Linked DNA regions of Homo sapiens. The protein of the gene in region 1 interacts with the protein of each later gene in a pairwise test. Each region holds a gene or a part of one and is shown on either strand. Other genes may lie near its edges.

Evidence for each region.
Region 2: the proteins of MPHOSPH9 (region 1) and SVIL interact in a two-hybrid assay, tested with the Homo sapiens proteins (one study listed by BioGRID).

Annotation. Positions count from the first base shown.
Region 1 is NC_000012.12:123,157,532-123,170,118, reverse strand, and holds part of MPHOSPH9 (M-phase phosphoprotein 9), read left to right. Parts: intron 1-3,329; coding exon 3,330-3,464; intron 3,465-4,641; coding exon 4,642-4,817; intron 4,818-6,017; coding exon of another isoform or gene 6,018-6,028; coding exon 6,029-6,169; intron 6,170-6,984; coding exon 6,985-7,105; intron 7,106-7,900; coding exon 7,901-8,004; intron 8,005-8,735; coding exon 8,736-8,983; intron 8,984-9,269; coding exon 9,270-9,338; intron 9,339-12,501; coding exon of another isoform or gene 12,502-12,555; exon of another isoform or gene 12,556-12,587. UniProt on the Homo sapiens protein: Negatively regulates cilia formation by recruiting the CP110-CEP97 complex (a negative regulator of ciliogenesis) at the distal end of the mother centriole in ciliary cells.
Region 2 is NC_000010.11:29,516,495-29,529,081, reverse strand, and holds part of SVIL (supervillin), read left to right. Parts: intron 1-2,025; coding exon 2,026-2,121; intron 2,122-4,366; coding exon 4,367-4,610; intron 4,611-5,054; coding exon 5,055-5,631; intron 5,632-6,446; coding exon 6,447-6,672; intron 6,673-11,802; exon of another isoform or gene 11,803-12,587.

The DNA.
Region 1 (12,587 bases):
GTAGTCCCAGCTGCTCGGGAGGCTGAGGTGGGAGAATCACTTGAGCCTGAGGGGTCGAGGCTGTACTGAGCCATGATCATGCCACTGCACTTTAGCCTGGGGGACAGGGTAAAACCCTGTCTCAAAAAAAAAAAAAGACATTTAAAAATGTGTATTAATACATTATGCCTTCTGTGTAATTAAATATATAAAAATTGGTCTTATAATTAAAAACAAATTTTGCAAGATCGGGCTGGGCACGTGGCTCACACCTGTAATCCCAGCACTTTGGGAGGCCAAGGTGGGCAGATCACTTAAGGTTAGGAGTTTGGCCAACATGGTGAAACCCCGTCACTTCTAAAAATACAAAAATTAGCTGGGCACAGTGGTGGGCCCCTGTAATCCCAGCAACTGTGGAGGCTGAGGCAGGAGAATTGCTTGAACCTGGTAGGCAGAGGTTGCAGTGAGCTGAGATCACGCCACTGCACTCCAGCCTGGGTGACAGAGGAAAACTCCATCTCAAGAAAAAAAAAAATTGGCAAGATCTTAGCATTTATTAAAACTGAGAATGGGTGAGTAGATGCTTGTTATAGTATTCTTTGTAATTTTCCAAGAATGTTTGAAGATTTTTTTTTTTTTTTAAGACGGAGTCTCGCTCTGTTGCCCAGGCTGAAGTGCAGTGGTGCAATCTCGGCTCACTGCAAACTCCGCCTCCTGGGCTTATGCCATTCTCCTGCCTAAGCCTCCTGAGTAGCTGGGACTACAGGTGCCCGTCACCACACCTGGCTAATTTTTATTTTGCATTTTTAGTAGAGACGGGGTTTCACCATGTTAGCCAGGGTGGTCTCGAGCTCCTGACCTCGTTATCTGCCCGCCTTGGCCTCTCAAAGTGCTAGGATTATAGGCATGAGCCACTGAGCCTGGCCCTGAAATAGTTCTTAATTTAAAAACTGGGCCGGGCGCAGTGGCTCACGCCTGTAATCCCAGCACTTTGGGAGGCCAAGGTGGGTGGATCACGAGGTCAGCAGATCAAGACCATCCTGGCTAATAACATGGTGAAACCCCATCCCTACTAAAAACACAAAAAATTAGCCGGGCGTGGTGGTGGGCGCCTGTAGTCCCAGCTACTCGGGAGTCTGAAGCAGTAGAATGGTGTGAACCCAAGAGGCAGAGCTTGCCGTGAGCCGAGATCGCGCCACTGCACTCCAGCCTGGGCGACAGAGTGAGACTCTGTCTCAAAAAAAAAAAAACTGAGGGAAAGAGTGACTGGAGTTGAAGTGAATGTAGATAGAAGAGGCAGCCTCTAAAATGTTTGGTTGTGAAAGGGGACAGAGAGAAAACAAGAGTTGTTTCATGGTTTCTGGTGTTTCTTTGAATTTGACTCAAAAGTTTCACCTGTCAACGAAGGTGGGATGGGAGGTTTGAGGAGGGTGGAAAGGGTGTGAGATAGTCATGTTTGGAGAACTGAAGCTTGCTGGTTACAGAAAGTCATGTTGCCGGCCGGGTGCGTTGGCGCACACCTGTAATCCCAGCACTTTGGGAGGCTGAGGTGGGCGGATCATGAGGTCAGGAGATCGAGACCATCCTGGCTAACACGGTGAAACCCCGTCTCTACTAAAAATACAAAAAAATTAGCCGGGCGTGGTGGCAGGCGCCTGTAGTCCCAGCTACTTGGGAGGCTGAGGCAGGAGAATCGCTTGAACCTGGGAGGCGGAGCTTGCAGTGAGCCGAGATCACGCCACCGTACTCCAGCCTGGGTGACAGAGCGAGACTCCGTCTCAAAAAAAAAAAAAAAAAAGAAAGTCATGTTGCCAGGCGGTCAGGCGGTTTGGGGTGTCCGCTTGAGGTGGTGATGAGTCTGCCCAGCTGGTGGCTTTTTTCCAGCAAAGCTCAGTGGTAGGAGTTGAGACCTGAAGCGCGGCCTTTGTAGTCAGCCAGTCCTCAGATTTTGCTGCCAGTCAGGTGTGGTGAAAGGTGAGAGAGAAAGTATCGTGAGTGTGGACTTCAGGGTAGATCAAGAGGACCTAGTCAGACTAGGAGGGGTTGATAAATGGAAAATGGAGAGGCCAAGGATCGTAGGTCACGTTGCTGAAGCTTGAGGGCGGGAGGCAGAATAGGGGCACAGTCTTTGGAGTATTGGTTTCTTAAGGGGAGTGTGTTCTCTGGTTTTGACAAAAGCCAGCAAGTACCCTCTGAGGTGGCTGGCTGAGGAGTAGAGGGTCACCTCACTGGAGAGAGTGGTCAGGAAGTTGCCTAGTGTGAGAACAGGCATAGGTGTGGAGAAAACAAGGCAGGCTCTAAAGTCTGGGGAATGACTGGGGGTTAACATGATGGTGGGAACCTCAGATGAGCTGGGGGAGCAATGTCTAGAATTGCGCTGTTCAGTACAGTCCTGCCAACAGCCACTATTACTATTTAAATCAATCATGTCAACCTAAAATCAGTGACAGAGACTGACTCTCCAAAGAAATTTATTTGGAAATGTTGGGGGTTTGCAAGCTGGAGTACGCATGCTGTGGTGAACCATAAGCATGTCCAAAGGGGTTGGGACACAGGAAACTTTAAAAGACAAAGGGCAGTCCACAGTCCACTAAGCTATTTTAAAACAAAGACCACTGGTTACAGGAGCATGTTGCAGGCATTAGCATTAGCTCAGTGGTGGAGACATCCCTTGTTAGGGATGTTTCCTTGTACAAGCAGCTTATTATCTGGAATACTGTCGTTCTGAGGAATTCAGAATAGTTCCCATAATCAGCATCTGTGTGAGAGGCTGCTCCTTTGTGCCTCCCAGCTCCATTTTTTGGGAGTTTGACATTAGTGACTCCATTTTGATACTGAAAACTTTCATTATTAAAATTAACGTTTTATAATTGGTTCTTCAGTCTCAGCAGCCACATTTCAGGTGTTCAGTAGTGACACCTGACTTGTGACTGCTGCATTGGACAGTGCAGATAGCATTTCTGGTTTTGCAGAAGATTCTGTTGGACAGTGCTGGTCTGAAGGGAACAAGAAGGGCAGCCCTGCTTCCTTCAGCACTTTACCCTCAGCTACAGTAGGGGCACAGAGTGTAAAGGGTGTGAAATGCCTGAGAGACAGTGAGGGGAATGTTCAGAGCCGCAAGTACCTGAATCTTGACTGAGATTCAGAAGTAACAGAAACCTAGAACAACAGTTAAGTTGAATCATAAAACTGTAAAATAAATTGTATCCAAAATATAGATTGTTACATGTGATTTTTAAATTAGTGTACAAATGTGTAAATACTGTTTGAGAGCAGATTGTTTTATATGCACATGCAGTCTGAAATGAAGTGCAGACCTTTATAATGCCTGACCGTTTTCATTCTAATAGCACACTAGCAACTTCAGACGTCAGCAGGCGGAAATGGCTGATTCCAGGTGCAGAGTATTCCATCTTTACTGGCCAGCCTCTGGACACCCAGGACAGTAACGTGGATAACCAGCTGGAGGAAACCTGTAGCCTAGGGTGAGATAACTTTGCTAAAGATTCTATTTAGGGATGTTATGTTTTCTTAGAGATTTCAATTGCTTTTAAAAGTTTGGGAAGCCCTCTCTTTGGTTCTTTAATGTCTTAATTTTGAGAACCTGACTTTTATTTTACTTTGAAAGGCTACTACTTTTAGAATATTTTACTTCCATGAGCTCTGCCAAGCTTCCCCACCTGTGCTCAGTGGCACAGTATGGGTTTGTGATTAGGATAGGATGTCGATCCTCAGGCCAGGTGTGGTGGCTCACGCCTGTAATCCCAACACTTTGGGAGGCCAACGTGGAGGATCGCTTGAGCCTAGGAGTTCGAGACCAGCTTGGGCAGCATGACAAAATCCCACCTCTACAAAAAATAAATATATTAGCCGGGCATGGTGACATGCGCCTGTAGTTTTAGCTACTTGGGAGGCTGAGGTGGGAGGATTACTTGAGCCTGGGGAGCTCAAGGCTACAGTGAGCTATGATTGTGCCACTGCACTCCAGCCTGGGTGACAGAGTGAGACCTTGTCTAAAAACAAACAAAAGATGTAGATCCTCTCCCACTTCAGATGGCTCTGGCCAGCCCGAGCCCCGAGCCTGCGTGAGCAGCCTCAGCCGCTTACTCCAGGGTGCTGTGCAGATGCTGTTCCTCTAAGTGTAGGACTAGAAGGATGGGAAAGCACTGTATGCAGGTTTAATTTATTTGCATTGCAAAGCATGCTCATTGTGGAGTATAATTGTCAACTCTGTTATTCCCCTAACAACCCCAGTAAAGTGTGTGTTTTAGCTTGGACTGTTATAACAAATTACCGTAGACTGGGTGGCATAAACAACACACATTTCTTTCTCTACCTCTGGAGGCTGGAAGTGCAAGATCAGGGTGCTGAGTGTTTGGTGAGGGCCCTCTTCCTGGTTATGTCCTCACATGGCCTTTCCTTGGTGTGTGTGCACAGAGAGAGCGCTCCTGCCTCTTTCCCTTTTTCATAAGGGCATTAATCCCATCTTGGAGGCTTCACCCTCATGACCTCATCCAACCCTAATTACCTCGTAAAGACCCCACCTCCACACACCATCACATTGAAGATTAGGGCTTCAACATGTATGTTTGGTGTGGGGGCGGGGGGCAAGATACAGACATTTAGTCCATAGCACTGTATGTCTTAAAATTATTGTTTAAGGCACCGTTCACCTCTGGAAAAGGATTCTTCACCTGGAAGTTCATCAACAAGCTTGTTGATAAAAAAGCAAAGAGAGACTTCAGACACGCCGATCATGAGAGCTTTAAAAGAACTTGATGAGGGAAAAATATTTAAAAATTGGGGGACACAGACAGAGAAAGAGGACACCTCAAATAGTGAGTATTTCCTTGTTTGAGATAGATGGATATAGATATCTTTTCCCCATTTATATTACCTTCGTTAAAATTAAAATATTTAGGTAATGAAATTAAAAGTTTTAGCTCTGTAAACTTGCTATTTTACTGCTACTTCAGCCCCGTTTCATAGAGAATTGAATGTCCTAGTTAATAATTTATCACAGTTCTGGCATAACATGTACCTTTTGTACAAAGCCAGTTGAATCTTACATTCCGATTATGAAAAAGGCTTACATGGCATTCTTTTTTTTTTTTTTTTTTTTTTGAGACAGTGAGACAGAGTCTCACTCTTTTGCCCAGGCTGGAGTGCAGTGCGTAATCTCAGCTCACTGCAAACTCCATCTCCAGGGTTCAAGCTATCATCCTGCCTCAGCCTCTCAAGTACCTAGAATTACAGGTGCCCTCCAGCACCCCCGGCTAATTTTAATATTTTTAACAGAGACGGAGTTTCACCATGTTGGCCAGGTTGGTCTCGAACTCCTGGCTTCAAGTGGTCCACCCGCCTTGTCCTCCACAACACAACACAAAGTGTAAACACAAAGTGTTGTGATTACAGGCGTGAACCACTGCTCCTGGCCTTACATGGCATTCCTAAGGATATTTGAAAAATTCCTGTCAGTCCATCTTACTTGCACACATCAGAAGGCTGTGATAGGCATTTGGTATTCATGAAGTGAGATATAACATTTCCTCTTCTTTCTTGGTTACTGAGCATCTGTAGATAAGGCAAGTAGTGTCTTTAATACTGTGTTTTTTCACAGGTCCAGGTCACCAATACATTTCTCTCCTTTTCCACTATGCTTGCTTTCTCAGACCCCTTAGTCATCCTGCCAGCGTCTTTGCGGTTACATCTCCCAAGCAGTGTCTCTTAGTAAATAAATTAGTAACCTGCTTTCTAAAAATAACCCTCTTGAAAATCACCTTGAATGCCGATTGTAAACAGGGAGCCAGAATGAATTCATTATAAACTCCCATATTTTTCTTCATCAAGCATTTTTTATCATTATAATGTGGTGCATTTGCAAATAGTCACTATAACCTAGCTGGTGAGAATAAATGCTTTGAGCAGAACCTAAGCTGTGGGGCTTGGTGTGTAACCATGTGTAACCACCTGTTAATAAAGGTGGATAACTGAAGCGTAGGCTTGTTTTGATTTGTTTTTTGTTTTGCTTTTTTTTGGTCTGCTGTAGTAAATCCTCGGCAAACTGAAACTTCAGTTAATGCAAGTCGTTCTCCAGAAAAGTGTGCCCAACAGAGACAAAAGAGACTTAATTCGGCCTCACAGAGATCATCATCTTTACCACCTTCAAATCGTAAATCAAGTACTCCAAGTAAGAGTTAGATGTGTACATCTCTTGGGTTCAAAAGCGTGATCTCTGAGTCAAATCTATTTGTGCCCGCTGCTTGCCTGTTTCTGGTTTCTCTTGTATCCTCAGCACCTAGTAGAGTACTCTGAGCAGAGGACCCCTAAATAAGATCTTGTTCATAAATAAAATTGTCTGATCACATAGATACTACAAATGTAAATGAAGAAATCTGTTTATTAAAGTGAGATTTTTTATTGTGTCCAGTAAATTGTTTACAACTAATACTAATAATTTATTGTGTCCACTAAATTGTTTGCAACTAATACTTAAAAATGCCAGCTATCCAAACATTAATTCAATCAAATTAATCCAAGCTAGTCTCAAATATACTTCTTATGTATTTGATCTCAAGTACTTAGCATTAGTCACCATTTTTCTTTAGCCAATAACAGGTTGGTTTTAAAGTTGAAGCATTGAATTCCTGTCCTGAATTTCCGTTTTCACACCAGCTGAGGAGATTCTTATTATTGTGTTATAGGAATGTTCAGTAGTGTACTGCTGTTTCCATCTTATTTCCAGTCGACTTCTAAAATCCTGAAAAACCAGTTTTGAGTCAGAGTGCTGAAAGTACTGTCTGATATACTACAGTGTTACAGTGGTTACCTCTAGGTGTTAGGATTATGAGTGATTTTATTTTTTTGTACACTCTTATTTCTCTCTCAAAGTTTTACGTTGAAATTATATTCCTTTCAAAATTAGAAAAAAAATACTGAATAAGAAACTGTTATGCTGATACATATAGAAGGAAAAGAATATTTCCTCTTCATTTTCTTCTATAGCAAAAAGAGAGATTATGCTAACACCAGTGACTGTGGCTTATAGTCCAAAGCGATCCCCTAAAGAAAACTTGTCCCCAGGATTTAGTCATCTGCTTAGCAAAAATGAGAGCAGTCCAATTCGGTAAGTTCTCTAAAATTGTAGAATAAAGTTTACTATATTAGTGATTTTTTTCTAAATGTTGACTTATGTCTCTAGCTATCACTAATTTTTCAGTTACCAGTGGGAACTCTGTGAATTTCATTTAAATCATAAGTGAATGTCATACTACAACTAAAGTACTGCAGTACAATGAACACAGTTTTTAACTATGTAAACTTGCTACTACTAGATTTTAAATTATCACCTCAGCACCCCTGTCAGCTTTTGTATGTAGAATGATAGTTCTTTGTTTTCCTGAAAAGGTTTATGATACGGGAAAACTTTTGGGCCATTTGTACAGGAAAGTGGGCTTTACTGGTATGGCCCTGGCACCAAATGCATGTTTACCTGTGCTGCTGAGAATCTGTCCCCTCCGAAGTGTGGGCAGCTGTGTGTGCTATTAGCGGGGAGGGATGTTGCTTCTTGGTTCCAGACCCAACTCTGTCAGGCTCTTGCGGAGATGAGTTAAGCACATTGAACCTCAGTTTCCTCTTCTATAAAACGGGGATAATAATAACTACCCTGCTTATTTCATAAGGTTTTTATAAATATCAAATGAGATAATGTATGGGTAAGTGTTTTAAGTCTTTAGTTTGTAAATACAATTTTGTTAGAAAATAGAAATAAATTTCAGTTTTAGACAATTACATAACCAGCTTTCTTTTAAGAAAATACATAAATATGTGAGTTAGCTGGATGCCAGCTCATCTTTGTAGTGGAGATAGGGAAAATCAGTTAACATTTTTTTTCTCACAAGTAACTTGCTTCATTCAATAGATTTGATATACTTTTGGATGATTTAGATACTGTTCCTGTGTCTACATTACAACGTACCAATCCAAGAAAGCAACTCCAGTTTCTTCCTCTAGATGACTCGGAAGGTATCTTTTCCTAAAAAATATTAGTTATGGTTTTAATCATTCATTTTTTGAGATTCTGGTATCTCTCAGTGTTCTAAATATTATAATATCTTGCACTTAAATATTTTCCCACTCAAGGGCGTCTGAAACTAAGCACTCATGATGCTACGTGTTGTTATGTCAATGTTGTTATCCTCATTGAAAAGTTGGGAAACTGAGGTACAGGGAATGTTGATGTTTAATTACCAGGGCCACACTGCTCAGTTATTCTCTTTACTTTTATTCTCTATATGCAGCTTAGGCTTTGGGTAACTTTTTTTTTCTCATTTATATTCTAAATTTGGAATAAAGCTATAAGACAATGTATGTGAAATCACTTGGGTAGGCCCTCAAAACATTAACTGTTTAGTGTTGGTGTATGTCCACTAAATGTGATGTATTATTTAGTTTTTAAGCTTTTTTTTTTTTTTTTGCTTTAAGTTTACTTAAAGTTCATTTATGTTTACATGAAGTTTGCTTAAGTTCATTAAGGGAAGTTGCAAAGATTGTCAAACAGAGGGCAAAGCTTTCAGAATTCTTTGGAGAAAAAAGCACTGAGTAAATAAGATTGATTATTGTATCTCTTTTCATTACTTTTTTGGGCCACATAGCAGCTATATCCAGAAAGTGAAATTGGGCAACATATTTAATATATATGCAACCTACACGAAAAATTGATAAGAAATATAAGCAATTTCTCTCCTCTCTGACAGAAAAAACTTATTCTGAGAAAGCCACCGATAACCATGTTAATCATAGCTCTTGCCCTGAACCGGTGCCAAATGGAGTGAAGAAAGTATCTGTGAGAACAGCCTGGGAGAAGAATAAATCAGTTAGCTACGAACAGTGTAAGCCGGTTTCAGTCACTCCACAGGGGAATGATTTTGAATATACAGCAAAAATTCGGACCCTAGCTGAAACAGAACGATTTTTTGATGAACTTACAAAAGAAAAGGACCAGGTAAAAACAAACAAATATTTTTAAAAATTGTTTTCTGAACTTAATGCTTATGTCTAAGGAGAAGGGAATTATTGAGTCAAACCTGTCTCAGGAAATTACAATGGGATAACATACCAGAGCTGTGCTAGCAACGGATTTGAGCCATGTGGTCGTTACTAATTGACAGAGGGAAATTAAGTTGAGATGAAATGGACAAGGAAATACTAAGCCAAAACCTTTTCTTTCCATTCTGTGTGATAAACCTCCCTGCCAGTAATTTAAACATATTTTTTTCGTGTGTTAACAGATTGAGGCAGCACTAAGCAGGATGCCTTCTCCTGGAGGACGAATCACTTTACAGACAAGATTAAATCAGGTGAAATGTCTTAGCTTGAATCTGCTTTAGAGGCTTGATGCCAGTCAGTGTTCCAGTTATCTAAGAGGGGTTTAAAAAATCATGGCACAGTGAAAATTAGACACACTGAAGCAGCAGTCAAAACTTTTAGCTTTTACGGGAAGTGTTTGATTATAGCAATTTTATAACTGCAAGCTAGCTTTCAGGAATAAAAATTGATTTTACCTTTAGACTTAGAGAAGAAGGTGTTCATGCCCTTGTATTTTCAAGAAACTAACTTGAGAGCAAATGGCAATATGCTTTTCAACAGATTTTACACTAAGTTAGTGCTCACAGATTGCCTCTCTTTTTGTTTGATTTCTCCCTCCTCAAATCTGTAATTTATTTCTGAACTCCTTTCCATTAGCAAGCAGATAAAATGGTTACACTTTGGAAACTGAATAGCTGTAGAGGTTCAAAAAGTGAGCCGTAGGCCGGGCGCAGGGGCTCACGCCTATAATCCCAGCACTTTGGGAGGCTGAGGCTGGTGTATCACCTGAGGTCAGGAGTTCCAGCCACTGTGCCCAGCCCCCAACTTCTTTTTTTCTGACTTTGTCTTTTTGTTCTGATAAATATTAGTCAATAATTTATAGGCTGGGCGTGGTGGCTCATGCCGGTAATCCCAGCACTTTGGGAGGCTGATGCAGGCGGGTCACCTGAGGTCAGGAGTTCGAGACCAGCCTGGCCCACATGGTGAAACCCCGTCTCTACTAAAGTACAAAAATTAGCCGGGCATGGTGTGGGGGTGGGCGCCTGTAATTCCAGCTACTCGGGAGGCTGAGGCAGGAGAATTGCTCGAACCTGGAAGGTGGAGGTTGCAGTGAGCCAAGATGGTGCCACTGCACTCCAGCCTGGGTAATAGAGCAAGACTCAGTCTTAAAAAAAAAAAAAAATAAACTTTCAATTGAACTTTTCATGTTATGAAATATCTTTCTATAACATCCTTTTAAATTAACGTACAATATTCCATCAGCAGTAACGTATTTAACCAAGAATGTTTTAGTAGAAATTTGGGTTGCTTCTAATTTTGGATATCATAAATAAGGCTGCAATAAAGTTCTTAAACATATCTCTTTGCACGTGTAAGTATTGCCTTAGGAGTCATTCCCAGAAATAAAAATGCTAGGTCCAAAGAAATGCAAATTTCTAAGGATTTGGATATATGTCAAGTTGTAACCCAGGATGTTTGAGACAATTTCTACTCCTACCTGCCGTGTATGAAGATAAGCTCTTCCCCATCCTGAAACCTGTATGTTTGGGAAAACAACAACAACAAAAAAAACAAAAAAAAACCTGCCATGGCCAGGCGCAATGGCTTATGCCTGTAATCCCAGCACTTTGGGAGGCCGAGGTGGGCGGATCACGAGGTCAGGAGTTCAAGACCAGCCTGGCCAACATGGCAAAACCCCATCTCTACTAAAAATACAAAAAATTAGCCAGGCGTGGTAGTGCACGCCTGCAGTCCTAGCTACTCGGGAGGCTGAGGCATGAGAATCGCTTGAACCTGGGTGGTGGAGGTTGCATTGAGCTGAGATCGTGCCACTGCACTCGGCCTGGGTGACAGAGCAAGACTCCGTCTCTGAAAAAGAATAATAAAAAAAAATACCTGCCAATGTGATCATTTTTTAAAAGGTGTGGGGTTGTCTTGGCTAATCTTTTATTTATCTAGTTTGGAGACGGAGTCTCGCTGTGTCACCAGGCTGGAGCGCAGTGACGCAATCTCGGCTCACTGCAGCCTCCAACTCCCTGGTTCAACTGATTCTCCTGCCTCAGCCTCCTGAGTAGCTGGGATTACAGGCACATGGGCCCGGCCTAATTCAAAGATATTTTGAGGCCGAGAACAGTGGCTCATGCCTGTAATCTCAGCACTTTGGGAGGCCAAGGTGGGCAGATCACTTGAGGTCAGGAGTTTGAGGCCGGCCTGGCCGATGTGGTGAAACCCTGTCTCTACTAAAAATACAAAAAAATTAGCCGGTTGTGGTGGTGTGCCTGCAATCTCAGCTACTTGGAGGCTGAGGCAGGAGGTTCACTTGAACCCAAGAGTTGGAGGTTGCAGTGAGCTGAGATTGCACCACTGCACTCCAGTCAGGGCAACAGAGTGAGACTGTGTCTCAAAAAAAAAAAAATTGAGATAGAGTTTGATTCTCTTCTTAGGTTTCTCTTTTAATTTTTTTGAGACAGGGTCTCATTCTGTCACTCAGGCTGGAGTGCATTGGCACAATCATAGCTCACTGTAGTCTTGACCTCTGAGGCCTCAGCCCCTTGAGTAAGCTAGGACTACAGGCATGCACCACCACACCTGGCTAATTTTTAAAATTTTTTTGTAGAGGCAGGGCCTTGCAGTGTTGCCCAGGGTGGTCTCGAACTCCTGGCCACAAGTGATTCTCCCACCTTGGTCTCCCAAAGTGCTGGGATTACAGGTGTAAGCCATCATGCTTGGCCTTATTTTTCTTTTAAAAATGATACACGGCTGGGTGCAGTGGTTCACGCCTGTAATCCCAGCACTTTGGGAGGCTGAGGTGGGCAGATCAGATCACCTGCAGTCAGGAGTTCAAGACCAGCTTGGCCAATATGGCGAAACCCTGTCTCTACTAAAAATATGAAAATGAGCCGGGCATGGTGGTGGGCACCTGTAATCCCAGCTACTTTTGAGGCTGAGGGAGGAGAATCGCTTGAACCTGGGAGGCAGAGGTTGCAGTGAGCTGAGATTGTGCCACTGCACTCCAGTCTGGGCAACAGAGCGAGACTCCGTCTCCCCCAACCAAAAAAAAAAAAATAAAATAAAAGTGGTATGCATATATATGTATGCAGAAAAAACAGGAAAGAGGAACAGTTTTTTTTTCTTTTTTGCTTATTTGTCTTCTAAATTTTCTATATTCTAAGTGTTCTATAATCCTTTTATAATTAAAGAAAAAAATTTTAAGTTTTATTTCAGGACACCATTGGAATTAATACTGAATAAATTAACTAAAATGAGGCTGGGTATAGTGGCTTATGCCTATAATCCCAGCACTTTGGGAGGCCGAGGTGGGTGGATCACTTGAGGCCAGGAGTTCGAGACCAGCCTGGGTGACATAGTGAGATCTTGTCTCTGCAAAAAAAAAAATGTTTAAAATCAGCCAGGTGTGGTGGTGCCTGCCTGTAGTTTCAGATACTCGAGAGGCTAAGGTGGAAGGATTGCTTGAGTCCAGGAGTTTGAGGCTGCAGTAAGCTATGATCATGCCATTGCAG
Region 2 (12,587 bases), on another chromosome or scaffold:
GCCTCCACCTCCCGAGTAGTTGGGATTACAGGCATGTGCCACCACACTCAGCTAATTTTTGTATTTTTAGTAGAGACGGGGTTTCACCATGTTGGCCAGGCTGGTCTCAAACTCCTGACCTCAGGTGATCCATGCCTCAGCCTCCCAAAGTGCTGGGATTAATTGCCAGAAATTTCTAAAAATTAAATTGCAGTTTGATAACTTTCCAAACAATAGGAAGTTTGTTTTGAATAATATGTTTCAATATATTCAGAATTAATTTCCCAGAGTAGTTCATTCAGAGATCATTGCTTCAATCAAGTGAAAAATTTTCTTATTTTTGCGGGGGGCATTGTTTGTTTTTTTGAGGCAGTGTCTCACTCTGTTACTCAGGCTGGAATGCAGTGCGCCATCTTGGCTCATTACAGCCTCAACCTCCTGGGCTCAATTGACCCTCCAACCTCAGCCTCCCAAGTAGTTGGGACTGTAGGCCCAACCACCACACCTGGCTAATTTTTGTATTTTTTGTGGTGATGGGGTTTTGCCATGTTGCCCAGTCTGATCTTAAACTCCTGGGCTCAAGCGATCCTCCCACCTCAGCCTCCCAAAGTGCTGGAGCTACAGGCGTGAGCCACTGTACCCAGCCTAGTTTTGTTGTTGTTGATGTTGTTAATTGGTTTTGTGCTTACCTTGGACACACAGACACCCTTCCTGGAAAAAAAAATAGTTCATCCCATTAGGTTATTGACATCCCAAAAGGCCTCTATGTCAGTGCCCCGTTCTGTAGACCTGCTGTTAGATCAGCTGCCTACAGTTCCTCCCCGAGTTGTTCCTCAGTTTCTTGGTGCATTTGTAGCTAAGTATATCCTTGCACTCATTAGGAACTCTTTGCAAATCAGTTTGTTTTTTAAAAAAAGAAATATTTGAATGGCTGGTGTAAAATAACAGGCAGATACCCATGGGAGCAAAACAGTAAATATAAGAAAAATTAATCCCATTTTAAGGCTCAATAAATCTACCTTGATGTGCCTATAGATTGTATAAGAACACTGATACTTTTAAAAAGTAGATTGAGGCCGGGTGCAGTGGCTCACACCTGTAATCCCAGCACTTAGGGAGGCAGAGGTGGGTGGATCACCTGAAGTCAGGAGTTCAAGACCAGCCTGGCCAACATGGTGAAACCCCGTCCCTACTAAAAAATACAAAAATATTGGCCAGGCATGGTGGCGCACGCCTGTAATCCCAGCTACTCGGGAGGCTGAGGCAGGAGAAATGCTTAAACCCAGGAGGTGGAGGCTGCAGTGAGCCGAGATCGCGCCACTGCATTCCAGCCTGGGCGACAGAGTGAGACTCTGTCAAAAAAAAAAAAAAAAAAAAAGGCTGGGCCCAGTGGCTTACACCTGTAATCCCAGCACTTTGGGAGGCTGAGGCAGGTGGATCACGAGGTCAAGAGATCAAGACCATCCTGGCCAACATGGTGAAACCTCATCTCTAATAAAAATACAAAAATTAACTGGGCGTGGTGGTGCGCGCCTGTAATCCCAGCTACTCAGGAGGCTGAGGCAGGAGAATCACTTGACCCCGGGAGGCGGAGTTTGCAGTGAGCCAAGATCATGCCACTGCACTCCAGCCTGGTGACAGAGACAGACTCCATCTCCAAAAAAGAAAAAGAAAGAAAAAAATTAGATTGGAAACAATATTCTAAAACACAGACATAATCTACTGATTTTTTGATAGCTAATATTTGCTTTTTTGAATTATTATTTTTTTTACACCAAGACATGTATTCTCAAGACAGAGTAAATCCTCCCAGCTCTGAACACCTATTCTTACCCCATTTGCTTTGGGTAGCCACTATCTCTTATTTCCTGAGTTTGTATTTGCTTTTGAAGTTCTTTCGTGATTTTTTCTCCCCAAAAATAATTAGCAAAATATTCTGTTAAAATTTTTGATTTAACGTTTCTGAATTTAAAACTATGCTGTCCTTAATGCTTCTTTTCTTCTCTCTCCTTATGAATGTTTCCTCTTTGGCAATTGCTTTTAAAGTGAACCTATCCCCGCTTCGTGTTCTGGGGGCACCCACCCTGTAATGGCGAGACTTCCTAGCCCCACTGTAGCTAGGAGCGCTGTGCAGCCTGCCAGGTACTGGACAGATACAGATGCATGCGGCACCCGGTGCAAAGGTGCCGAACAGCAGATGCATCCTAAAGTCTTGAATGTCTGTCGTTTGTTTGACAAACAAGTCAATGCCGTGAGTTGTTCCAGAATGCGTGGCATTTTGTTTTGTCATAGCACAAGGTGCTGATAACCACATGCTGGCGTGCGTGGGAAAACATTTTGTCTCTCTGCATATGTTATGTGTTAGAACTAGGATCACACTAACTCACGTATCCAGTTGCTTTGTTTGTTTTTCATAATAATGGTCATCCCTCAAAAATTTTGTTCTTCATCTAAATACTGTTATAGCACTTAATAAAGATTAATAGAAAAATGGGACATTGGCCAGGCGCGGTGGCTCATGCCTGTAATCCCAGCACTTTGAGAGGCCAAGGCAGGTGGATCACGAGGTCAGGAGATTGAGACCGTCCTGGCCAACATGGTGAAACCCTGTCTCTACTAAAAATACAAAAATTAGCTGGGCATGGTGGCATGTGCCAGTAATCCTAGCTACTTGGGAGACTGAGGCAGGAGAATCGCTTGAACCTGGGAGGCAGAGGTTGCAGTGAGTCAAGATCGTGCCACTGCACTCCCGCCTGGTGACAGAGCAAGACTCTGTCTCAAAAAAAAAAAAAAAAAAGAAAGAGAAAAAAAGAAAGAAAAAAAAAGAAAAATGAGACATTAACCTGAATGTTGAAATGCTGATAAGACCCAGTCTTTTTCAAACACCTGTAGACACAAATACAGACTGAAAACAATCCTCCCTCTTTCTAATTTATAGAGTCAATGCCATTATATTTTGGGACTGGGAAAATAACAATTTGTAGTGTCTAAACGTAGATGTTTTACTGTCGTGTTTCAGATTGTGGTGCTTTAAAATTATGTCCTCACATCAGGTCATATCCCTTCATTTTACTGTTATATGAGCCAAACCGCAAAAGCTAAAAATAATGGCAGTGCCGGGATAAAGCTGGTACACCCACAGCAGGGCCCTCCCGGAGAAGTGGGTTTCCCTGCCCTCCTGGTTACTGCACGAGGTCCACGGAGGACTCTGAGGCTCAGGTGGCTTTTTTGTCACTGGCCTCATTATACACCTGGAATATGGAAGCTGGCTACTCTTTGGCCTGGGATAGCCTGTGCATTGGGGATTCACTAGAATCAAGGCAGAATATCTCCTTTACTAGATCTGACAATTGGATCGGTCAGGGACAGAAGATATAGTGCATTACAAACCCCTAGAGATTCATATTGACCGTGAAGACTTCAGGCTTTCCTTCTCTTCTAGCTGGAAGTTGGAGGGAGCTATTTATTTATTTACTGATTTATGTATTCATTCATTTATTTTTGAGACAGAGTCTTGCTCTGTCGCCCAGGCTTCATCACTGCACACTGCAGCCTCTACCTCACAGGCTCAAGCGATCCTCCCACCTCAGCCTCCTGAGTAGCTGGGATCACAGGTGCACACCACCAAGCCTGGCTAATTTTTATATTTTTTGTAGAGATGGGGTTTCACGATGTTGCCCAGGCTAGTCTCCAACTCCTAAATTCAAGTGATCCTCTTGCCTTGGCCTTCCATAGATATGAGCCACCAGACCTGGCCAGTTGGAGGGATTTATAATCACCTGAAATTTTCTTTACTCCTCTGGTTACTGGAAATTGCAGATTTAAGTACCTTTTAGAAAACTGGTAGGAACCTATGAGAGTAAATGCTAAGCTGAAGCAGTGACTCTTTAAAAATTAAGCCATTTGTCTTTAGCAAGTAAAAATCAAGACCTTCTGTTATGTTGTTGACAGAGGACTATATCGTTTCCTAATTATTTAAAATGAAAGACCACCTTCTGAACCATATCTTTAGATAAGGTCTAAATACACCGTAGGTAATACTTTGTGACTCCCTTTCATTCTACTTATTACGATACTAACAATGCCGCCTCTCTGTCTAAGATAAGGTATAGCCAAGCTGACTTCAATGTCTTAAACAGGAAATTCGTTTTGTAGAAATAATTCGGAGCTCAAAGTCTGCTCTTTGTAGAAGTGATGATGCTAAGTGTCCTGTGCCGACTCTGCTTGTTGAGTAGCTGAACAGCTGCCTGCCTCTGTCCTAGACGTGCTTAGGGAAAAAGAAGCCCTTTGCAAAATGATGTGACACTTGGCAGAAAGTTAACGTAGAAACTTAGCGGTGTGCTTTTGTTTGTTGGTATATGTGTTGCTGACATTTTATTTTTTTCAGATTGCAGGCCTCTGCTCACCAAAAGGCCTTAGCCAAGGACCAGACAAATGAGGGCAAAGAGCTTGCTGAGCAAGGAGAACCTGATTCCTCCACTCTAAGCTTGGCCGAAAAGTTGGCCTTGTTTAACAAATTGTCCCAGCCAGTCTCAAAAGCGATTTCTACCCGGAACAGAATAGACACGAGACAGAGGAGAATGAACGCTCGCTATCAAACTCAGCCAGTCACACTGGGAGAGGTGGAGCAGGTGGGTGTGCTATAGTCCGATTGCAGTTTGTGTGTGTGTGTTCTTAAATTATAGCACTGCAGTATTCCTCTGAGGTCAATGATGTAATTAAGGTGCTCTACCAGGAAACTGCTACCTGTAGGTGATTTGGTAATAGCTTTCTTCCTAAAAATGAGAATTCTACCAAGTATGTTGCTCTTTTTTTGTTTTCATACCTTGCTTGCTGAAATATCTAGAATGAGTCCATTTTGGAGAGAAAAAAATAGTATGCCCAACTGTGTTTCACCCAGAGGATTTTGTTTAATGAGACGTATTATATAACTATGTCCAGGAATGGTTTTCCACTAAGAGAAACAGTGAAACTGCATCAAATCGAGTATTTCAGCTTCTGTCAATTCATAAACCAGGATTTATATAGATGATATTTTTCAAGCAGCTTTTTAATTTTTAACTGTGTCCTTCCAGGTGCAGAGTGGAAAGCTCATTCCTTTCTCACCTGCCGTGAACACATCAGTGTCTACCGTAGCATCCACGGTTGCTCCAATGTATGCCGGAGATCTTCGCACAAAGCCACCTCTTGACCACAATGCAAGTGCCACTGACTATAAGTTTTCTTCTTCAATAGAAAATTCGGACTCTCCAGTTAGAAGCATTCTGAAATCGCAAGCTTGGCAGCCTTTGGTAGAGGGTAGCGAGAACAAGGGAATGTTGAGAGAATATGGAGAGACAGAAAGCAAGAGAGCTTTGACAGGTCGAGACAGTGGGATGGAGAAGTATGGGTCCTTTGAGGAAGCAGAAGCATCCTACCCCATCCTGAACCGAGCCAGGGAAGGAGACAGCCATAAGGAATCTAAATATGCTGTTCCCAGAAGAGGAAGCCTGGAACGGGCGAACCCTCCCATCACCCACCTCGGGGATGAACCGAAGGAATTTTCCATGGCTAAAATGAATGCACAAGGAAACTTGGACTTGAGGGACAGGCTGCCCTTTGAAGAGAAGGTGGAGGTGGAGAATGTTATGAAAAGGAAGTTTTCACTAAGAGGTAAGTGACCAGTGCCCCTAAAGCTTTAGAAAGCCACTGGGTTTTAGTTTCTGCTTGATTTGTCCTGTGTCTATGATGGCTTTTAACAAAGTTCTATAGGCAGTTTACAGCTAGTATTGGTTAAAAGTTCAGCGGGAATCCTATTCTTCCCTGGATCTGACTAGAGGATACATCAAGTTTTCAGCAATAAAACTACTGGAAGAGCTTTCACACATCTTCATGGAGTTTCTGTTGACTTTGGTCACTCACACAATGGCCTTCTGAGCTGCTTAGTTCTGGTGGCCCCTTTTAGAAATTGATGACCCCAAAGGTCCAGGCTGGGTAAGCACAAGGAATTCAGGAAAGACTTGACCCCAGTCTCTGAATCGCTAGAGTGCTTCTTCCTGCATGCCTGTTTTGCAGGCTAGCAAGCTACACTGCGTGGGCCCTTCATCCTCTTTCTACGTTTGTATGAAACAGTACAGTGTAAGTTATAATAGGGGTTTGCGTTTGTGAGTATAGCACATTTGAATGTTAAGGTATTATTTTGGAGAATAGAACCATTCTGGAGTAAATAGTTAAAGCTGACTTCCTGTGTCTCGCACACAGGAGAGAAACCAATTGCCACGAAGCATTTTGCTGTGTGGGTAACCCTCCAGGAAGTTTGGTTTTCTCACAGAGTGTAGCGTGCTGCAGATTTGCATAAATCCCAGTGGATTGGGTCACCCGCCGTGTGCCCACGGATTGAACCCTGAGAGCTGCACTGTTGAGGGCGAATCGCTGGAAGAATGTTTGCCTGAGGAGTTCAGTGCTGATGTTGCTCTTTTCCTTCCCAGCGGCAGAGTTCGGGGAGCCCACTTCCGAGCAGACGGGGACAGCTGCTGGGAAAACTATTGCTCAAACCACAGCCCCCGTGTCCTGGAAGCCCCAGGATTCTTCGGAACAGCCACAGGAGAAGCTCTGCAAGAATCCATGTGCGATGTTTGCTGCTGGAGAGATCAAAACGCCGACAGGGGAGGGCCTTCTTGACTCACCCAGCAAAACCATGTCTATTAAAGAAAGGTAATGAGATTCGGTGAGCGAAAAGTAATTCTCTCGGGGAGGAGCTTACAGCTTGCTTTTAGAAAACAATCTCGGTGATGGGCAAAGAGATGAAATCATACATTCAGCTTCTAACAGGACTGTGCTGTTGTCCTGGAGTAATTCTAGGAAGCTGAGGTGTTTGAGAGTGAACTGCCTTTGCTCATGAGCCTGGTTTGGTAATGAGCCTGGTTTGGACAGGGCTGGTTCCAGACTCAGATGAGAAAACAAACAGAAACAGACTTCTGTTTTATTTATTTGTTTCCACTGTCCCAATATCTTTTATAATATTAAATTCTTGGACTATCTAATGACAGGAGCTGAAATCTTGGCTCTTCCCCTTTTAGATACACAGGGTTCATACTGAATGCACAAACCACTTGTGACTTTGTGTAAAATATGTGTAGAGGGAGTGAAGATAAATTTACATAGAGGGCATATATCTTTGGACTTAGAATCCAAGTTTTGTTTCTTTTACAGATTGTAAAATGGATGACTTTTCTGAACTGCATTTAGAAATTGTATGTCAGGTAATAGCTTGAAAGATTGCATTTCAGCATCAAATAACACAGTAGCCTAATTTCTTTCAAAAGAATGACGTAGGGTGCAGAGGAATATATTTAAATTAGACAGATACAGAGAACTGGAAGTAAATTACCTTGGGGATGTGTTTTCCTTGTTAACCCTTAACCACAGATGAATTAAGCAGCAAAAGATGCAATAGTGGGAATAAATTCAGAGTTTGATAGCAGAGTAGGGTGACTAAATAAAAACGTATTGTACTGAGGTGATGGACATTCTAAATAGAGGCTTGATCACTATGCATTTTATATGTGTAACAAAATTTCTCATGCACCACATAAATTTGTACAAAAAAAGGAGAAAGTATTCAGTAGGAAAAAAACATGATGGAATAGTTGATAGGAAAACTGGGTGAAGAAAAATCTTGTCAACTCCATATTAGGAGAACCATTTCCATCGCCTGTTCCCACAGTTCTGCCAACCTCCACCCTTCCTCAGCACCTCCCACCACACGGAAGTCTGCAGGCTTCACTGACCACTCTTATTTTTCTAGATACATTTCAAACTGCCTAAGACTATACTAAACCACAATGAAAAGTCTTCTTTCTTTCTTTTCCTTCTTTCCTTTTTTTTTTTTTTTTCTTTTTGAGACTAAGTCTTGCTTTGTCACCCAGGCTGGAGTGCAATGGGATGATCTTGGCTTACTGCAACCTCTGCCTCCCGGGTTCAAGCGATTCTCCTGCCTCAGCCTCCCAAGTGGCTGGGACTACAGACGCACACCACCACACCCAGCTAATTTTTTGTATTTTTAGTAGAGTTGGGGCTTCACCGTGTTAGCTAGGATGATCTCGATCTCCTGACCTCCTGATCCGCCTGCCTCGGCCTCCCAAAGTGCTGGGATTACAGGCGTGAGCCACCGTGCCTGGCCCCTTCTTTCTTTTTTTTTTTTTTTAGAGGAATGGTCTTCCTCTGTTGCCCAGACTAGAGTGCAATGGTGCTGTCACAGCTTCACTGCAGCCTCGAACTCCTGGACACAAGTGATCCTCCTGCCTCGGCCTCCCCAGTAGCTGGGACTGCAGACACGTACCACCATGCCTGGCTAATTTTTTCAAAAAGATTTTTTGTAGAGTTGGGAGGTCTCACCATGTTGCCCAGGCTGGTCTCGAACTCCTGGCCTCAAACAGTCCTCCCACCTCAGCCTTCCAAAGTGCGGGGATTACAGACATGCACCACCACACCTGGCCCTTCTTTCTAGTTTTAAGCCAAGCTTCTTGAACATTATTTGTAAAATAATAGATGCTATCTTTTTCAACTGACAAATTAATCACATTGTTAAATCTGACTTACTTTCTCCTTTACTTACTTAAAATTCATGATAAGTTAGACCTGGCAGGCTGAGGGGCATAGGGAAGGGGCAGAGGGGACAGTGCAATGAGGAGAGGGATGTCTTCAATCGGGGAAGCAGTTGGGCCTATTGAGGCTTGAAGTTCTCTTCCACGAAAATGGGGCTCAAAGAGAGTTTCATCCCAGAAACCCAAATATTGACAACTGGTTAGGTGAGGAAGAAGAGAGATCATTTAAGGAAATTAACAATAAATATCACTTATACACAAGTTCTGATGTTTTACACATGAGAAAATATCCCTGGGGTATTCCCCAGTGGGAAATACTAATATTATGCCCCCTTCTTTCAAAGGCTTTTAAAGGAGCCTTCCCATCTTTGGGAATATTCTGTCCATCTGGACTTAGGACTTTTGATGAAGAAGTCCTGTGTCTATCCACTAAGCAATAATTCCTGATTTACTTACCTGTTTTTTGGTAAATTTTAGTTGACCTGTATTTTTCTGAAAGCTTTAATCCTACTGTAAAATTCTCATTTTTAAAAGTGAGATACTGGAAAGACGTAGCTTCTTAGCTTGGGCTTTGTGGACATGTAAGGCGTTCAAGGATGGCTGTAAAGTTTCTGTGAACAGCCCGGAAGTGTATTCAGAATTGAATGGGTGAGCACACACACCTGCTGGCTAACAGAAGCCATAACTTATCATGGTCTCCAAGAGATCCCTGAGCCCAGTCTGTTCAGAATCATGATAGAAAGGAATGCTTGATTGATATTCAGCTATTCAGTTTGTTAAAATACATTTATGAAAGAACAAGGGACACTTTATTTAGCAGCTATGCTTGTAATAAATTACACTAATGCAAAATATATTGCCAGTGATCTTTTCCCCCTTACCTTCACAGTACTTTTATTTGTACTTTGCTGAAAGTGACTAAATTACATATATTTACAATTCATCCATGATAGCTTTTCCATGAGACTTTAATCCCTCCCTTTTGTGAAAATGAAATAATGAAGCTTAAACTATTTAAAATAAGAATGTTATTCCTCCATTTATTTGGGCTTTACTTTTCCTTCTTGAGAAAGAAATATATAAAATCATAGGACTTCCAAACTTTATTCTAACCGCCTCTGACTGCCTCATTTTACCAAAGGAGGGATTCGGCTCCGGTAGCCTCCAGGGCCACGTAGTGAATAGAGCTGACCCAGGGGCCACGTCTCCAACTCTCCCCTGGTCCATGGTGAGACCGCGGTGCGCTCAGATTAGTGTTAGAGCAGCCAACCCCGTGTGCTCTAACCAGGAGAATACGGTGAGAGGACAGAAATCCCAGCTAGACAGCAGTGTTAGAAAGACACACCTTCTTTCTTCATGAATTTTCTCAGTTCACATGCTCTTAACAGGGCTTATATTTCAAATTACACATCCAAGTTCACATTTCAGAGTCTCAGAAATAGAGTCTGGAATTTGCAGATTTCCTTCATCGTTTTTTATAAATGCCTGTCCCCACTAAGGAGGGCAGGTCTGTCTTCTTCAGCCTTGTTGTGTCAGTCTCTCCCCTGTCCAGGGCCTGACTATATTAAGTTCTCAGTGCTCAGTGCTACCCAGCGTCACAGACTGCCTTCCACATTTTGTACATGATCTCTCATTTAATTTTTGTCTGTTTGTTTGTTTTTTGAGATGGAGTCTCGCTCTGTCACCCAGGCTGGAGTGCAGAGGCACGATCGCGGCTCACTACAACCTCCGCCTCCCAGGTTCAAGTGATTCTCCTGCCTCACCCTCCTGAGTAGCTGGGATCACAGGAGCCCACCACCATAACCAGCTAATTTTTGCATTTTTAGTAGAGGCGGGGCTTCACCATGTTGGCTACGCTGGTGTCGAATGCCTGACCTCAGGTGATCTGCCTGCCTCAGCCTCCCAAAGTGTTGGGATTACAGGCGTGAGCCACTGCGCCCGGCTTTCATTTAATATTGAAGACAGCCTCCAGAAGAAAGCAATATTATCCCCATTTGTAGACAAAAAGCATAGAAACTAAGAAATTATAGGAAAACCTCCATACACTCCTTTTTTAGAATATGTTTGATGCTCAAGGAAACATATTAAAAAGTTATTTTTATATTTATTTATTTATTTGTTTATTTTCTGAGACAAGAGTCTCACTCTGTAGCCCACGCTGGAGTGCAGTGACACGATCTTGGCTCACTGAAGCCTCCCCCTCCTGGGTTCAAGCGATTCTCCTGCCTCAGCCTCCCAAGTAGCTGGAATTACAAGCACTTACTACCATGCCTGGCTAATTTTTGTATTTTTAGTAGAGACAAGGTTTCACCATATTGGCCAGGCTGGTGTCAAACTCCTGACCTCCAGTGATCCACCCGTCTAGGCCTCCCAACGTGCTGGGATTGCAGACGTGATCACCACACCCAGCCTTAAAAAAATTTTTTTTCATCTTTTCTGACATTGTGAATGTCAAATTTGAACCATAACCAGCAAAAAACTTAGGATGCAATCGACTTTTCCCACCGGATTAGTAAAATTGCTATTTTCTGACTGTCCAAATGATGTGTGTTTAAATTATCCCTGTTTGGGAACTTCTTTGAGAAACATTGCGAATTAAATAATTCTTATGTTATTTAGGGATAAAACCTTTGCTATTGCTTAAAGAGTATGTTAGGCCTTTAGAAATCTTATTTCCACAATGTCAGAAACAGTGGCATCTGAGCTTTCTTATTTAGGGAAAAAGACTATTGAAAAGAAAAAAAGAGCCATCCTTTCACTTTGGCAAATTGGTGGCATGTAAGGACTTAGTGGAACTCCCTGAACTGTTGCAGAATCCACCTCACGCCTCTATGGTGTTCTGCCCTAGAGGGACCGGCTGGAGGCTCCTGTGTTTCCCGCCTGCCGGCCCCCGCCCCAACCATCCACCCTTCGGTATCCCACCCAGCCAGAGGCTGTCTCCCTGTCTCCACAAACTCCAGGTTCTTACCCTGTAGCTGGGAGATTTCAGCCACTAGAGGGCCCCAGATTTATGTAGGAATAAGAATAGAGCGGCAGTTCCCCTTTACTCCCTCCTTTTCTTTTTCTTTTTCTTTTTTTCTTTTATTTTTCTAGACAGGGTCTTGGCACTGTTGTCCAGGCTGGAGTGCAGTGGTGCGATCATAGCTCACTGCAGCCTCCACCTCCTGGGACTCAAATGATCCTCCCACTTCAGCCTCCCAAGTAGCTGGGACTACAGGCACACACCACCATGCTCAGCTGGCTTTTTATTTTTTATTTTTATTTTTTTGTAGAGACGGGGTCTTGCTCTGCGGCCCAGGCTGGTCTCCCACCTCCTGGCCTCAAGCGATCCTCCCACCTCAGCCTTCCAAAGTGCTGGGATTACAGGTGTGAGCCACCACGCCTGGCCCTCCTTTTCCAAAGTGTGATTTGTCTCTCATTTAAAAGACACTTTAGTTCATTCACTTCTCCAACTTGTGAACCAGCCAAAACCAAGATCTAATATAAGTACTTAAGTGTGCTGTTCATCCCTATCAGAGATCTATGGGGTGCCTGTAATTCTCTAAAATGAAGGGAAAATTCTGAAAAAGAGAGAGAAAACACATCTTATTTAATATTAGGGGCACATGGTTGTCATGTCTCCTGTTTGACCCAGCCCTGACTGCTCTGAGCCTGATGTCCTTGTTCTCAACAAGCAGGGTTCTCAGGCCAGCATTCCCTGCTGGAACAGTGTGGGCTATGGAAGAGGAGGCACCGTTTCCCCGGGTGTCCTGGCAGGCACCTGTCACGGTGGCCCTGGGCCAGGCGTTGGGTGAGCGGGCCAGTGTCGTGCCTCTCTCTGGGTTCACACAGCCCAGGCCTAGCCACTGCCCAGGCTCCCAGCATCACAGTCCTGCAAACAGCACTTTGGCTTGGCAGTTGTTAGAAGCGCTGACAGTTGTTTGAATTGCACCGGCAGGAATTTATGTCCTGCGTAGGCCCAGACGTCGGCTCCTCGACCCTCTCAGAGCCTGGTGGTCTGCGGTGAGCCGGAGGGCTGTGAGC